Linked DNA regions of Homo sapiens: region 2 is linked to region 1. Evidence: fine-mapped expression QTL. Tissue or cell type: whole blood. Region 1 holds a variant in brackets; the other region holds the start of a gene. All regions are shown on one strand. Distances are between the middles of the regions.

Region 1 (5,000 bases):
TTCACCTTCAGTCATTATTCATTCTCTCTTACACACATACACACACACGTGCACACACACACACACTTACTTGATTAGTTTCATCAGAGACTTGTCAGTTCTAGTACTCTTTTCAAAAGCTAACTTTTGACTTTGTTGATCCTTTCTGTTATATGTTTCATGTTCATTTAGGTTGTTTAGTTTCCCTCTTTTACAAGAAATGTGGAAGTGAGTGTCCTTATACCTGTATTTTAAGGCACGTTTGCCAGTGAATGCATTCCTTTAAGATTACTAGCCCTAGAATTGCTCATTTGTAGGGCATGCAGATGAACAAAGTATTCAACTTTGTTGATGTTACACAAATTGCTTCACAGAATTTTGTATCAGTTTATACTTTTGCCAGGAGTATTTTATTTTACTTTATTTTATGACAGAGTCTCACTCTGTTGTCCAGGCTGGAGTGCAGTGGTGTGATCATGGCTCACTGCAGCCTAATTCCTGGGCTCAAGTGGAAGCCCAGGTAATTTTTTAAATTTTTTGTGTGACAGAATCTTGCTATGATGCCCAGACTGGTCTCGAACTCCTGGCCTCAAGTGGTCCTCAGGCCTTGGCCTCCCAAAGTGGTAGGATTACAGGCATGAACCACCATGCATGGCTCACCAGGAGTATTCTAGATTTCCTACAACCTTGTGTTGAACTTTGTATTATAAGCCTTTGATTTTTAAAATCAGTTTGGTGGGTATAAAATGTACCTTTTTATTTTATTTTGCTTTTCCTTAATTATTAGTGAGATTGACCACATTTTTCAGTTTATTGGCCATTTCTGGATCCTCTTCTGAACTGCCCACTCATATCTTTTGGTATATTTCTTATTTTACTTTTCATGCCATTTTCTTGTGACTTATAGGAGATTTTATATATTTATATATCCTGGGTATGATTGTTTGCAATGCATTAAAAAAACCCCTTTTCATTGAAGTATAACGTATACATATAAAATGCAGAAATCATAATTGGACAAGCTTGTTGGATTATCAGAAAGTGAACATACCTTTTAATTACCCTTTCCCATGAAAGTTAAGAAAGAAAACATTACTAGCACCTCCGAAGGCCCACCTCTTCCATCTTGCAAAAACTATGCCTCCCTAGTCCCCCAAATAACCACTTCCCTGATTTATGCTATCATAGATTGGATTTACCAGTTTTTGAATTTTATTTAATTTGAATAAAATCATATGTAGTGTTTATGTCTAGCTTCCTTGGCTCAATAGCAAAACAGTGGGAATCATCTATGCTGTTTCATGTGGCTATATTTCATCCATTTTCTTTGCTGTGTACTATTTCATTATTATTATTGTTAGACTCTTGAGTCATTTCCAACTTCTGGGTCTTAGAATCAAAGCTGGTATGAACACTTTCCTCACTTATGAATGCAATTTTGTGGGACATATTACATGAGAGTGAAATAGTTGGGTCATAAGGGTACGTAGAAAATGCCAAACCATTTTCCAAAGTGGTGCCAATTAACAGTTCCAGCAGCAGTGTATAAGAGTTATTTATGCCCCTATACCTGACAACACATGGTACTATTAGTCTTTTTAATTTTTGCTATTTGGATAAATGAGTAATTGTGTCTCATTTCAGCTTTAATTAACACTTCCCTGATTACTGATAATGTTGATCTTCTTTAAATTTTCTTATTGGCACTTGGATGTCTGTGTGTGTGTGTGTAATTTTTTTCTTTGAGTGCTTGCTTGTGAAAATTTTTTTTGAGACTAGCTCTTGCTCTGTTGCCCCGGCTGGAGTGTGGTAGTGCAATCATAGTTCACTGTAACCTTGAACCCCTGGGCTCGAGTGACCCTTCTGCCTCAGCCTCCTGAGTGGCTGCGGGTTACCTTGTCCAGGAGGTATCATTTTTTTTTTTCTGTGAAAAGCCAAATAATAAATATTTTAGGCATTGTAGGCCGGATGGTCTCTGTTTCACCCACTCAACTCTGTTTTGGAAGCACAAAAACAGTTGTAGACAATGTAGAAATGAAGGAGTGTGGTTGTGTTGCAATAACATTTTATTTACAAAAACAGGTGGTTAGCCACATTTGGCCCGTTGTGTGGTTTGCTAGCCTCTTGTCTATTTCTCATTGATTTGTAGTAGTTCTTTATAGATCTGGATATCAGTAATTGTTACAATGTGTCCTTCTAAGCAATGGCTAACCTTTCTACTCTGGTAATGAGGTCTCAGACTTCCTAGTTTTAATGCAGTCTGATGTATTGATTTTCCTTTGTGATTAGTACTTTCTGTGACTTGTTTAAGAATCTTTTTCCTACCCCTAAGTAAAAAGACCTTTTTTCCTATATTTTCTTCTTGAAGTTTCATTGTTTTTCTTTTTCCACTGATTTTTAAGTGTGTAGTGTTGGTAGGGTCAAATGTAATTTTTTTCTCTGTGGACTTATAGTTTACCTGTTCTTTTCACGTTGCTTTGCATGCAACGTAAATCATATTGGTCTTTGTGTGTAGATCTGTTTCAGAACCCTCTGTAGCATTCCCTTATTCTATTTCTTTCTT[TCTC/T]TTTCTTTCTTTCTTTCTTTCTTTCTTTCTTTCTTTCTTTCTTTCTTTCTTTCTTTCTTTCTTTCTTTCTCTCTCTCTCTCTCTCTCTTTCTTTCTTTCTTTCTTTCTTTCTTTCTTTCTTTCTTCTTTCTTCCTTCCTTCCTTCTTTCTTTCTTTTTTTTTTTCTTTTTTCAGATGGAGTCTCAGTCTCTCTCCTAGGCTAGAGGGCAGTGGTGCGGTCTTGACTCATTGCAACCTCTGCCTCCTGGGTTCAAGCCATTCTCCTGCCTCAGCCTCCAGAGTAGTTGGGATTACAGGTGCACACCACTATGACTGGCTAATTTTTGGTATTTTTACTAGAGACAGGATTTCACCGTGTTGGCCAGGCTGTCTCAAACTACTGACCTCAGATGATCCACTTGTCTCAGTCTCCCAAAGTGCTGGGATTACAGGTGTGAGCCAGCGCATCGGGCCCTTATGCTTGTTAATTATTATGGCATTAGATAAGTCTTAAGTTTTGTATAAGTCCTCTGCTTTTCCTTTTTCTGAAATGTTGCCTTGGCTATTCTAACTTCTGTTTCTGCAGCACTTGGAGATGGACTCAGGGCTATGACTAGCAATCCTAAGTGAGCATCGGATTTGATCCTCTGGATCTTTTAAAAATTCTGATGTTCAGCCTCACCTTCTGCTAACTGAAGCAGGTCACCCATGGGTGGCGCTTAGATGCCTTTATTTTAAAAACAACCCCTGGGCTTGCAAATGTAGGCAAAAGCTGAGGGTCAGCAGTGTAAGCAGGAGGGGTCACCTGATACTATACCACCTGCTCAGATTTGGTGATCCAGGTATGGCTGTTTTTGCCACTACCATGTGCTCAGACCTGGAATCACTCTTTGGGCCTCAGTGTTGTCATCTGTAAAACCAGAGGGTTGGAATCAATTCTGCAATATCTGGAGTCTGTGATCTTCTTGGTGCTGTGCCAAGGGATGTCATATGTCTTCAAAGAAGTTACAATTTATCAGAGGAAGCAGACAAGTAAACTAAGAATTTTATTACAGCATGAGGTGAACATAAAGAAAGCAAAACTAGAGCAGACCCTGGGAATGTCCATGGCTATGCTTCCTGGAAAAGGTGACTTTGAACTGTGCTTGAAGAGTGAACACAGTTAGCCTGGTGGGTACGGCAAGGAAGGTCAGTAATTAGAGGGAAGCAGCAGGTGCAAAGGCGTTGGGTGAGAAAGAGAATGGTGTTTGGGGGCCTTGGTTAGAGTTTAGGGCACATGTAGAAAGATGGTGCTAGAAAATAAACACCATTTATGCCAACCTAAAGCATTTCAACAGTGAATCCTACCATCAGGAGAATGGCATGAGCAAATTCACATTTGAGAAAAGTCCTTCTGTGGGGCTATAGTGAATACATTGGAAGGCCTTGAGAATGGTGGCATGCTGATCATTTGGACTATCCTAGAAATCAAGTTAAGAAGTGCGGTTCATTTCAGAAAGTTATAAAGTAGAACTGAAAAATTAGGGAAAAGGAGGAACTCATGTCTGAGGGCCCCTAATTTTTCTAATTGTAAGGAGATGTTATGGGGAAAATTTGAAAGAGTAATGTAAGTAAATAGATGGAGATGTAATGAATTTGTAGTGGTACCAAGACCCCTGTTTATGTGATTATCTCCTATAGTGCTCTGCTCTCTGGTTGAAGGCTTGCAGGAGAGGGATGAAGGGATCCATCAGAATGGGTCTTTGCAGGTGAAGATGCTGGAAGGACGGAGGGCTGCAGAGTTGAGGTACTGGAAGGGAAGTGATTCAAGTGATGGACACGTGAATCCAGGATGGACAGGAAAGGAAATGATACCTGAAAGAGCTTGGAAATTAGACAAAAGTAGAGAGGTCAGGTGGGCTAATTCCAGTTAAGATAGAAAAGTGAGTTGAATGGATAGAAAGTTCAGGTGGAAAAGTGTAATGCCCATGGTGAGTCTTTTTATCCTGTAGAGGCCATAAAACTAAAAAGACACAGGAACAAAATGACCATACCACCTTACATTTTGCTGAGTCACCTACTGCTAAGGCTCTGGATGGAATTCCATGTCTCCAGCTGGCTTTGCTGAAAGGTAAAGGTGAGGATGGAGGATCTTCCTGCTCTTTCTGCTGGAAAGCAGAGCCCTGGAGACACGGAAATTTCTCCAGCAGCATTGAAGTGTCCAGTCTCCAGTTCTGTGGGAGCTGAGTATTCCACTTTATTTGTTGGGGTGGCTCTTCCTGATGTGGCATTACTTGACACACTGGAGTTGCATAAGCGGCAACTCCTGGTCTCTGAATTGCAGGTGGTGTATTTCAGAGTTGATTCCCCACTTTCCAGATTGTGGTAGAGGTAGCGGCTCTCAGGGCAAGCTACTTCTGCAGTGTGGTTCTGGCCTCGATGCCACTTCCTGAGTACTTTCACAGATTTAGCAAAGCACCTAGTATCTTGTCTTGAA
Region 2 (5,000 bases), 160 kb after region 1:
TGAAGTTCCCCGACTCATGATGATGAGCCCTTTTCATGTTTTCATTGGCCATTCGTATATATTTTTTAGTGAAGGCAAAATATTTTGCCTTATTTAAATTGTATTTCTTTTTATATTGTTGATGTGTAGGAATTATTTATGTATTGTGGATGCAAGTTCTTTGCCAGATAGATGTAAAGTGAGAATATTTCCAGGGTTATCTATTCATTTTTAAGTGATGTCTTTGTTTAGTAGACATTTTTAATTTTGGTGATGTCCAATTAATCAATGTGTCCCAAATGGCTATTTTTTTTTGTGTCCTAGCTAAGAATTTTTTTTTTTTGCCTGTCCAAGAGCATGATTTATTTATTTATTTTTTGCCTGTTCAAGGGTCTTCTCTGTATTTTTATGAAATATTTACGGTTCTAGCTTTTATGTTTAGGTCCATGGTCTATTGTGAATTGATACTTGTATATAGAACAAGGCAAGGACAAAGTTCTTTTTTCTGCTGCTGCTTCTTCTGTAGAGGTACCCAGCTGTTCCAGCAATGTTTGTGAAAGACTGTTTTTTCCCCACTGAATTGACATGGTGCTTTGTTAAAAAAATCAATTGACTAGATATGTGTGGATCTATTAGTCTACTTTCTATTTTGTATGTTTGTATGTTTCTGTGAATATCACATTGCCATAATTACTATTGCCTTATTATAAATCCTCAAGTCAGTATAAGTCTCTCAACTTTGTTCATCTTTGTCAAGATTGCCCAGACAGGCCGGGCAGGTGGCTCACCCCTGTAATTTCAACACTTTGGGAGGCTGAAATGGGTGGATCACCTGAGGTCGAGAGTTCAAAACCAGCCTGACCAACACGGAGAAACCCTGTCTCTACTAAAAATACAAAAGTAGCCAGGCGTGATAGTGCATGCCTGTAATCCCAGCTACTCGGGCGGCTGAGGCAGGAGAATCGCTTGAACCCGGGAGGCGGAGGTTGCAGTGAGCCGAGATCGCGTCATTGCACTCACTCCAGCCTGGGCAAGAAGAGCAAAACTCCGTCTCTGTCCGGACAATCCTAGATTATTTGCATTTTCATATGAATTTTAGAAACAGCTTCTTAATTTCTTTGAAAAATTTTCCTGGGATTTGGATTGAATTGTATTAAATATATAGATTCTGTAATATATAGAGTCTAAAAATATACAGTGTGGAGAATAGATGTCTTAAGTCTTCCAATCCGTAAACGTGGTATATCCCTTTATTACTTAGATGTTTCATCTCTGTTAGCAATATTTTGTAGTTTTCACAGGAGATATCTCATATATTATCCAATGAATTTATACTTTGGTATTTTGATTTTTAAATGCTATGGTAAATGGCATTTTTAACAAACTTCACTTTTCAAGTTTCCATCTCTAATATATAGAATTGCTATTGATTTTTATATTCCATGATCTTGATAAACTTAATATTTCCAGTAGTTTTTTTTTTTGTAGATTTCAAAAGTTGGTCTACATATAATTATGCTCTCTGTTAAAACCAGTAGTTTTAATTCTTTCTTCTCAATCTTTATGCTTTCTAATTTTATTTTTATTTCTTCACTTGTTGCAAAGCAGTTGTCCCAGGTGGGAGCCAAAATCCTTATCTCATTACTAATCTTAGGAAAAAGTAAAATGTTTCACTATTATGAGGTCACCTGTAGGTTTCTTATAGATGTTCTTTATCAGATTAAGAAAGATCATTTCTACTCTCGGTTTTCTGATCGTTATTAATTCAGAAAGGGTGTTGAATTTTGCCAGATGCTTTTATTTGCATTTATTGAGATAATTACATATTTTTATTTATTATGTGGTGAATTATCTAAATTGGGTAAAAAGAATTAAAATCATTGTCCAATTGAACATTTTGCCTGTCGGCTATGGGTTTCCCTTTTCCTTTGGTTAAATAACAGTTCTGCCACAAAATAAAAATCTAGAAACACACATTCCCCTTTGGCCTCCTTAAAAAAAATTAAAACTTCAACAATTGCACCCCTCTCTATTACTTCCCTATAGTGAACTCCCATCCTTCTGGGAAAGCAAAAAGCCTGGGGCGCATTTGTGTACTTGAGACGCGGAGCCCCTCTCACCTTCGGCATCCCCCGGGGACCCCTCTTCCACCCTCAGCCCTCCCCTCCTCTTCCTCTGAAGAGCCGGGCGGCCGCTGCGGCCAGCGGTCCTCCCTCCTGGCATCCTCTGCTGTGAACCGCGGCCTGCAGGGTGCTTGCGAGCGGCCCGGGCGCGCCCCCTTCCGGCCCCGCAGGTCACCCGGCTACAGCCCGGGTTTTCCCGGGACCCGCGCCGCGCGGCTGGGCAGGAAGCGCCAGACGCCTGGGGCCCACGCCGTCCGCGGGAAAAGGGCAAGGCGCTGGGTTTTCCAGCAGCAACCTTTGGACCCCGCGATCCAGTAGCTCCGGTAACTCCACGCGGGGCGTCTGGGTGGAGGAGCCGGTCCTGGAGCACGGCTGCGAGGAGCACCCGGACCGGAGGGTCCCCAGACCGGGACCTCCGAGTCAGGGAGGATTCTACGCCAGGGAGCGCCCCAGACTGAGAGCGCCCCAGACCGCTACACTCCCGGACCCGGAGCTTCGCCCGACCGCGGGCAGTGCCCACCTGCAGCCTCCACCGGCCGGGGTTAGCAGCCAGGAGCTGCCAGACGCCTGACATTCTTCTTTCTGTTCCTACTTTTTTTCCTTCTTCTTCTTTTTTTTTTTTTTTGTAGCCCTCTCTGGGTGCCTTATCTCTTTAATCACACCTCTCTTTCACTTTCCACGGTAGTCAGGAGGCGGAGATCGCTGCTTCTCACCTACTTTCTGAACTTGGCCTCCGCAGTCGCGACCTGGCGTGAAGGAGGAGCTGCCGCCCCCGCCCCAGCCTCGGGGACGCCTCTCTGAAGGTAAGGGTGGGCTCCGCTGCCACCCGCATCCCCTCCCCACCCCCCAGAGGAAGGGAAGACCACCATCCGGGGAGGGATTCTCAAAACAAGATCAATTAAGAGAGAGAGAGAGATAGTGTGTGTGTGAATACGTGTGAATAATTGATGAGACAGCATCCTGTCTTTCTCTGAAAGTATAGTTTTAGAAATTAAGACATCCCCAATTATTTTCTGGAGAGGTGAGAACGACTGAAATAAATGATAACAATAGTTGTCATTTTTTAAGTGCTTACTGTGTGCCTGACACTGTAGAAAATTTTTAGATATCTTATTTTCACTTAATCCTCCTAAGGGCCACATGAAATAGGAACTATTATTATGCTTTAATAAAAGGGAGGAGGAATTCCGTCATTTACCCAAGAGTATCCAGCTACTAAGTAGTAGATCCCAGATCCACACCTACAGTTTTTCTGATTCCAGAGCCTTTGTCTTTTTTCTGCCCAGCCTTGGGAAGTTAAAATGCCCAGCACCTTGCATCGCAGTTATCAGACAAATTAATGAGGTGTCAATTGCAGCCAGATACAGAGATCCAAGATTATTGTATTCATTTCACTGACTTCCCTTGCTTCATTCTCAAGACCCTTTGCAAATACTGATTTTGTGTCATACACAGTGCTGCTATTGGGAGCACACCTCTCAACCTCAGGGCCTTGGATGGGCTAGGAGGGGTAAATTTGGGGAATTGGGTTTGTGCAGGTTCTGGGGACAGTGTTTTCCCTCTCCCTGCACAAATATACATCCAAAGGCTGAGAACTAAGGCTAAGGCCTAGGAATGTGGATTGAAAAGGCAGGGTCTAAATCCCAGCACTTGGGAGGCTGAGGTGGGCGGATCATGAGGTCAGGAGATCGAGACCATCCTGGCTAACATGGTGAAACCCCGTCTCTACTAAAAATACAGAAAATTAGCCAGGCATGGTGGCATGCATCTGTAATCCCAGCTACTCGGGAGGCTGAGGCAGGAGAATCCCTTGAACCTGGGAGGCAGAGGTTGCAGTGAGCAGAGATTGTGCCACTGCACTCCAGCCTGGGCGACAGAGTGAGACTCTATCTCAAAAAAAAAAAAGAAAAAAAAGAAAAGGCAGGGTCCCTGCCTTCAGGGACCTCACCAGAGAGTGGGAGCTAGTCCAGGAGTGATGGAAACACCTGCAGAGTGATGGAGACGGGCTTGGACATAGGCATGTGCCATTTGGGGCTGTTGCAGTTGGAGAGCTTCCTTGAGAAGGCAAATACTGAGCCAAGTTGAAAGGACTCTAGGGACCTGGCATCTGGGATAAGTGGGGAGGGTGGCCCAGGTAGCACAGGCATAGGCAGATTTGGGGGGAAGCATAAGGCTAACAACAGACACTTGTGTGACAAGGACTATGAGGTGGCATTGATTTTCTTGGCCTTACAGATGAGAAGCCAGATTCCACACAAATTATTTTGTTTGTTAGAGTTTAAGCGTGTGTGTGTGTGTGTATGTTATGCCCCAAGATCATTTTCTCCTCTTTGCATTTGGTTGTTTTATCATCTCACAGGCTGAGTAAAACGACTATGCATGGAACACTGTAGAAGAAAAATTATATTAAAAAAAAACTGGTGTTATGATTTTCATCCAGGCATTTTGTCTCAGGAGTTGCTCGATTGTATGTGTTGCTAATGAGTGATTTATATTGAGGCATCTACATTGATTCATGTGTGTCCTTGTGAATAGCTGTAATCTGAGGCTGGCCATTTCACTTCCTCAAATCTCAGGTTCCTCATTAGAAAGAGCTTTGAAATGGCTCTTTCCCTGTACATTATGTGTTTCTGTGAATTACTTTTAGAGAAAGGTCAGTTTCTCAGGGTGGGACCCATAAACAAGGGCAACTGGGCAGAGCCAGGGGTTCAGGTGACTGTTTGGACCCTCTGGAAGGGCTTTTTACTGTGCTGCCTTGGGAGACAGAGTGGTCAGCTTGGAACTGACCTTAAGCCTAGGTCACCCAATTTTTGAAGGAAACTTTTTTTTTTCATTTAGAGAAAACTTCATGCCTTTGGGTGATTAGGTAAGTTTGTGACTATTCGTTATGTGTGTGTA

Evidence for each region. PIP is the estimated chance that this variant, and not a neighbour inherited with it, causes the effect.
Region 2: IL18R1 starts here. The variant in region 1 is fine-mapped to the expression of IL18R1 in whole blood (INTERVAL, PIP 0.95).

The regions. Positions count from the first base shown.
Region 1 is chr2:102,193,016-102,198,015 of GRCh38, forward strand. All of the region lies in intron 4 of IL1RL2 (interleukin 1 receptor like 2), which reads left to right. Among named protein-coding and RNA genes, the nearest start is that of IL1RL2, 8.5 kb to the left of the region's middle. RefSeq lists an enhancer at 4,062-5,000. The variant TCTC/T (reference allele first, on the strand shown) is at 2,543.
Region 2 is chr2:102,353,496-102,358,495 of GRCh38, forward strand. IL18R1 (interleukin 18 receptor 1) reads left to right here and starts at 2,301. Exons shown (of 11, transcript NM_003855.5): 1 at 2,301-2,905. RefSeq lists an enhancer at 2,070-2,571 and silencers at 2,166-2,275, 2,296-2,355.